Linked DNA regions of Homo sapiens: region 1 is linked to region 2. Evidence: fine-mapped expression QTL. A gene starts in region 2. The other region holds a variant in brackets. All regions are shown on one strand. Distances are between the middles of the regions.

The links. PIP is the estimated chance that this variant, and not a neighbour inherited with it, causes the effect.
Region 1: its variant is fine-mapped to the expression of ODC1-DT in thyroid (GTEx, PIP above 0.99).

The regions. Positions count from the first base shown.
Region 1 is chr2:10,282,558-10,285,271 of GRCh38, reverse strand. No RefSeq gene overlaps it. Among named protein-coding and RNA genes, the nearest start is that of HPCAL1, 19 kb to the left of the region's middle. RefSeq lists enhancers at 605-1,205, 1,264-2,463. The variant C/T (reference allele first, on the strand shown) is at 1,709.
Region 2 is chr2:10,448,275-10,451,239 of GRCh38, reverse strand. ODC1-DT (ODC1 divergent transcript) reads right to left here and starts at 1,512. Exons shown (of 5, transcript NR_110597.1): 1 at 1,369-1,512; 2 at 959-1,187. ODC1 (ornithine decarboxylase 1) reads left to right here and starts at 2,913. Exons shown (of 12, transcript NM_002539.3): 1 at 2,913-2,965. RefSeq lists a silencer at 2,043-2,965.

The sequences.
Region 1 (2,714 bases), 170 kb after region 2:
ATCTGCAGGAGGGGCCTTGCTCTCGGAGCACTTTGCACCCCTCCTCCATTATAAACCCCTGCTCTGCAGGGTGACCTCAGGCAAATCACTTACTCCTCTGAATGTGTTTCCAGCTTCACAGGATGAGTTTAATGCCATGGGCTTCATTCGCTTGGTGTTCTGGGGAACTCATTCACACCCCTCAACACCGGCATGAATGAAGCAGTTTCAGTGTGGAGGTGCTTTGATCAGGAGGATGGAAGCTTAGGAAGGTTTGTGCAGTTGGGTCAGGACAGTGATGAAGGTGACAGGCAACCTGTTCCCTGCAGATGTCTTGGGGCACATGCTGGCATGTGTTCCATAGCTTTATTTTCCAAACCCCAAATCAGGACCCCCAGCCTGAGTCTGACCATGGGAGGGGTTTTTATACTTGGAGTTGTCCTGGACAATCTGGGTCCCAGGCTGCTGGAGTAGGGGGTGTCTGCCAGGTATGCAGGCAGCAGGTGGGCAGGGAGTTCTGACCTCAGGCCCTACGGAGGCATCCACTGGCGCAGAGCCCCTCAGAGCCGAGATGGGGCTCAGCCGGCTGTGTGGGTCCATAGCGCCTCCCAGGGAACACAGTGTGGCTTTGTGCTCACCCTGGCATCTGCCTCAGGCTCTGACAAAGCAAACCCATGCACAGACCTCAGCTCCCCGCACCAGGATGGCAGAGGGGCTGGAGCACCAGGAAAGGGAGGGTCTGGATTGGGTGCCCTTCCTCAGGTCTCAGTTCCAGAGGGGTGGGAGTCCAGGGTCTTTCTGAACGGAGGCTCGGATGGCATCTTATAGCTCCAAGTTCCCCCCACCCACAGTGTTGAAGCAGCCCCACTGTTTGCCTTAAAGCCTAGGTCATGGGGCTGGGCCAGAGAAGCACAATCCCACCCTGCCCCAACACACCGAGGCCACTGGGAGTCACCAGGGACCCCAAGCAGCCTGCGGCCAGCACGTCCCTCTGCTAAACCACCCTTGTCTTCACTCAGATGCCACCAAGCAGAGCTGAGAGCAGGCACGTGGCCCTGTTCATCTCTGGATCCCGGCCTGTTGTTAGAGCCCAGACGACAAACCTCTCAGTGATGTGAGATGGGAAAGCAACGCGCAGCCTGGTTTCATAAGGAAACTGCAATTTTTTTCTCTTTCAAGCTTTTTTTTTTTTTTTTTGAGACAGGGTCTCACTTAGTAGCCCAGGCTGGAGTGCAGCCTCAACTTCCTGGGCTCAAGGGATCCTCCCACCTCAGTCTCCTGAATAGCTGGCCCTATAGGTGTGTGCCACTGCACCCAGCTGATTTTTTGATTTTTTGTTGAGATGGAAACTCACTATATTGGCCAGGCTGGTCTCAAACTCCTGGGCTCAAGCGATCCTCCTGCCTTGGCCTCCCAAAGGGCTGGGATTCCAGTCATGAACCACTGAGCCTGGCCACTCTCTTCACTTTTTTTGCTGCATAAGAAGGATCCAACCCACTCCAGGGTTGAGCACACTTCCCGGGACAGCAAGCAACTATCTCCCCTTACACCTAGGAAGTTCTAGAAATCAAGCTATCCTGGCCTTTGCAGAAAGGGAACCTGACCCTCAGGGTCTAATGTGAAAGAAAAAGAATGCAAAGTGAAGAGGGCCCTGGGTGGAAGGATACAGAAGGCGAGTAGTGGTCTGATGCAGGTGAAAGGAGAGAGAAGGTGGACACCCCCCCACACA[C/T]ACGCAATGCCCAAGACACCAGCAGGCCAAAGAAGGGCTGCTGGGCCAGCAGTGGTGGCCCCACTGGAAGTGAGTCAGGGTGAGTCAGGGTTGGGGTGGGGCGGGGTTCGGGGGAAAAGACTATGTGGTGGCCCTTGGGGCAGCCTGTGGCTCTATTTGCTGCAAAGCGGTGACTGTGAAACTGTCTTTCCTTGTGTCTTTAGTGCTGGCTCCTCCTCCAGACCCATTCCCAGGCCTCTAAGAAGCTCCTCAGCCAGGCGTGCTCGTTGAGAGCCTGAGGAGAGAAAGGAGGCCGTGGCCAGGCCTTTCTACACAGATCCCTCACTGTCACAGAGGGCCGGCCCCTGCCTGTGGCTGCTTTGTCTTGTGGAAGGCAGCTGAGCCCGGCGTTCATCCATCCCCATGCTGGGAACCCTTACGCTGTGAACACAATCCCGGGCACCTCTCAGGTTCCCGGCTGCCTGCTGTTTCCCCTAATGCAGGTTGACTCTCACCTTGGAGTTTGGCTGAAACATCACCGTCCAGGACATGCCACTTGGCTTCCCTGTGGGGTCCCGGGGGACTGGGAGACGTTGGGTTTGCAACAGACAGCACCCTCCTTTCTCTCTGAGGTGGGGCCATGGCATCTCCTTTGGGAGTGGTGGTCAGGGTGGCTGTGCACAGCATTGCCTGGCCTCTTTCCCAGCTTCACCCTCACAGCCCTGGGCTTTCACTTCCCAAATCAAGAGTCAGCCTTTCATCTTTGCCCCAGTTTCTCCAGGGATGCAGCTAACATGCACACTGGCTCTGTTCTTGCAGCCTGGTGAGGGAAGGGTGTCGGCAGGTACTAATGGCCCTGTGCTGAGCCACGTGGGTGAGACGTCAGCTCAAGGCTCTAGGGGCCTTGCCCAACAGAGGCAGAGATGCACAGAGCAGTGTGGGTGGGTGGGAGTTACCATGGAGGAGACTGGACAGGCTGGAGGTACCTGGAGGCCTGTAGTGGGGTCAGACCTTCCCAGGGGTCTGC
Region 2 (2,965 bases):
CCCAGAACTTAGGTGAGATGACTAAGCTCTTAGAAGCATGTCCAGTGTAGTATCTAATGTTTTTATTCACTCTTTTAGCACCACACATAGAAGTCTCATCTCTGGCCAGGCACAGTGGCTCACGCCTGTCATCCCAGCACTTTGGGAGGCCGAGGTGGGTGGATCACTTGAGGTCAGGAGTTTGAGATCAGCCTAGCCAACATGGCGAAACCCCATCTCTACTAAAAATGCAAAAATTAGCTGGGCACGGTGGTACATGCCCGTAATCCCAGCTACTCAGGAGGCCGAGGCATGAGAATCGCTTGAGCCTGGGAGGCAGAGGTTGCAGTGAGACGAGATCACGTCACTGCACTCCAGCCTGGGCAACAGAGTGAGACTCTCAGAAAAAAAAAATAAAAAAGAAATCTCATCTCCACATGAGGGTGATTCCTAAGTGCGTGGCATCACGTATTTTTTTTACAAAGATCTGTTGCTTGTTTCCGAAGAAAAGAAAATAGTAATGGAGAGGATGAAGTTTACTGAAAATACATTGAAAGACAATAAAGTCATGCATTTTAAGTAAGGCCAGGTTTAGTCACCACCACCTGAGCTTCTGGAATCCAGCTGAGTGGTTGGGTTTCACAACTCCAGCCTTGCTGTCCACAGTTCTGCTGCCCAGGGCCTCTGCGGGTCTTCCTGCAGCCGCAGAGCAGAGCTCCGGGGAAGGAGCAGGCCTCCTTCCCTCCTTCTATTTCCCCTGCTGGGCTCTCCAGGCAAGGGCTCACCTTCCCAGCATGCGGGCAGGAGTTTGGGCTTTGGGGTGGGCTGGCGGGAGAGGAAGGTATGTGGGCGATAGCAGTGTGAGTGGCTTGTATGTGCAACAGTCAGAGCCCTCCTGGCTCCCTGAGCCAAGAACTGGCCTCTACGTTCCAGTTAATGTTTCTATCTGACCACCCCCAGGCTGCTAGGGGAACCCTACCTGCCAAGACATCCAGGCCCTCTGCCTGGAGGCTGCATACTGGGCAGTGCTGGGAACGACTGGTTGATAGGTGTGCCGGGAAGCTGGGCGATTCTGGCAGTGCAGGACACTTCCGGAGTGTGAGGAAAATTGCGTCATTGGAACAAAGTGATTCCTCACAGAGAGGCACAAAGTCCGCATCACCACAGAATCAAAGATGTCTCATTCAGCGCTGGAGCTATAACGTTCTCTGATGGGTTTTGATGGTTAATCTCATCAAGAATTAAGCTTGTTAAGGGTGGAGCTAACCCCCCTCTCCCTCCCTCTAGTCCGGGGAACACGGTGCCCGGTGGGCGCTCAAGGACTATGTAAAGATAAAGTTGATAGGGGCGTACCACCCCCACATCCCTTCACATAGGAAGAAGACTCACTTCTGCTTACGGCTAGCGTTTGCTCTGTTTCTGTGGAAGTCGTGCCTGCTCCAGGAAGAGCTGGATCATCCATTCATTCATTTATGCATGCATTCATTAAACAGGTATTCACTGACTGTGCCTCAGACCTGGTTTTGGGTACCAAGGAAGTTTTTCAAAACCTCACAGGGCTTTGTAGCTATAAAGATATGTAAGGATCCTTGGGTTATCTGAAGCCCAGAGAAGGGAGATAACTTGTCCAAGAGCACACAGCAAGTTGGGGGCAGCGCTGGGCCAGTGCTCTGAGCTCCTCCAACCCCGCCCCCACCCACCCAAGGCTAGATCTAGATCTACCCACTCCTCTCCTTAACTCTTCATCGGCTGTACTCCCACCCTAAGGAGTCGAAATCCCCACCCTAGGGAGAGACATATCCTGTCTGGATTGTCCAAAAGGGAATGAAAGGTAAAAATGAAAAAAAAAAAAAAAAGTGTCCCCAATTCAAGTGCAGTGCCTCCCTGGTGCGGGCATTCCAGCGTGGCCTGGAGTGAGTGGCAGTCCACCTCCAGAGGCGTCCCCTGGGCGCTCCTAGGGACTCGAATTTCCCACGCGGCTTTTTGCTTTATGTATTCACTGTTTAGACGTTTTCGGTCAAAGCATTTTGGGACTTCCGTAACTCTCAGAGCGCGCCAGGGAGCCGCCCTTAAAGATACCTAGTTACTGATGAGTTCCATCCGGTAAAGCAGAGGGTAGTGGGCGGCTTGGAGACTCAGGATCCGGGTCCCCTCACGCTCCTGGCTGAGTCCCTGGCTTCACAGGGGAAACTACCTCCGCAGGCCAGGACCCATCTAGTTACAGGATACCTCGATGTTACAAAGACGAGGCTTCCAGCGCGGGGGCGTGGAGGCGGCTGCCAGCCCTGCCCGCAGCGTGCTGGCGACCCCCGGGACGCCCCTTCCCTCCCGCGCCTCTGCTCCCTAGCTGGTGGGAGCAGAGCGGCACCGGGATCACTTCCAGGTCCCTTGCACCGGAGGAATGGGCGGCAGCAGGGTCCGGAGTCGGCCCGGCGGGGCCCACGTGGCCAGCACATCGGTCCTCCGCTCGCGATTTCCCTTTTCCGCTCTCGGGCACGAGGTACTGAACGCCAGGTGGAAGCACAGCTGTGCAGCTACAGGCTCTGCCGTTCAGCTGCCGCGGGCCGGGGCCGGGGCCTGCGGCGTCGTGCGCGTGCGCGGACCAGTTCCAGGCGGGCGAGACCGCCGCAGGGCGGGGCGGGGCGAGGCGGCCGCAGGGCGGGGAGGGCGGGGAGAGGCGGCCGCAGGGCGGGGAGGGCGGGGCGCGAAGCCGGGGGCGGGGGCCACGCGTGGGGCAGGCGGTGCTCGGCTCGGCTGACGTCGGCCCGCCGGCGCCCCACCAGCTCCGCGCGGGCCCGGGTTGGCCACCGCCGGGCCCCCGCCCCTCCCCCGGCGGTGTCCCGGCCGGAACCGATCGTGGCTGGTTTGAGCTGGTGCGTCTCCATGGCGACCCGCCGGTGCTATAAGTAGGGAGCGGCGTGCCGTGGGGCTTTGTCAGTCCCTCCTGTAGCCGCCGCCGCCGCCGCCCGCCGCCCCTCTGCCAGCA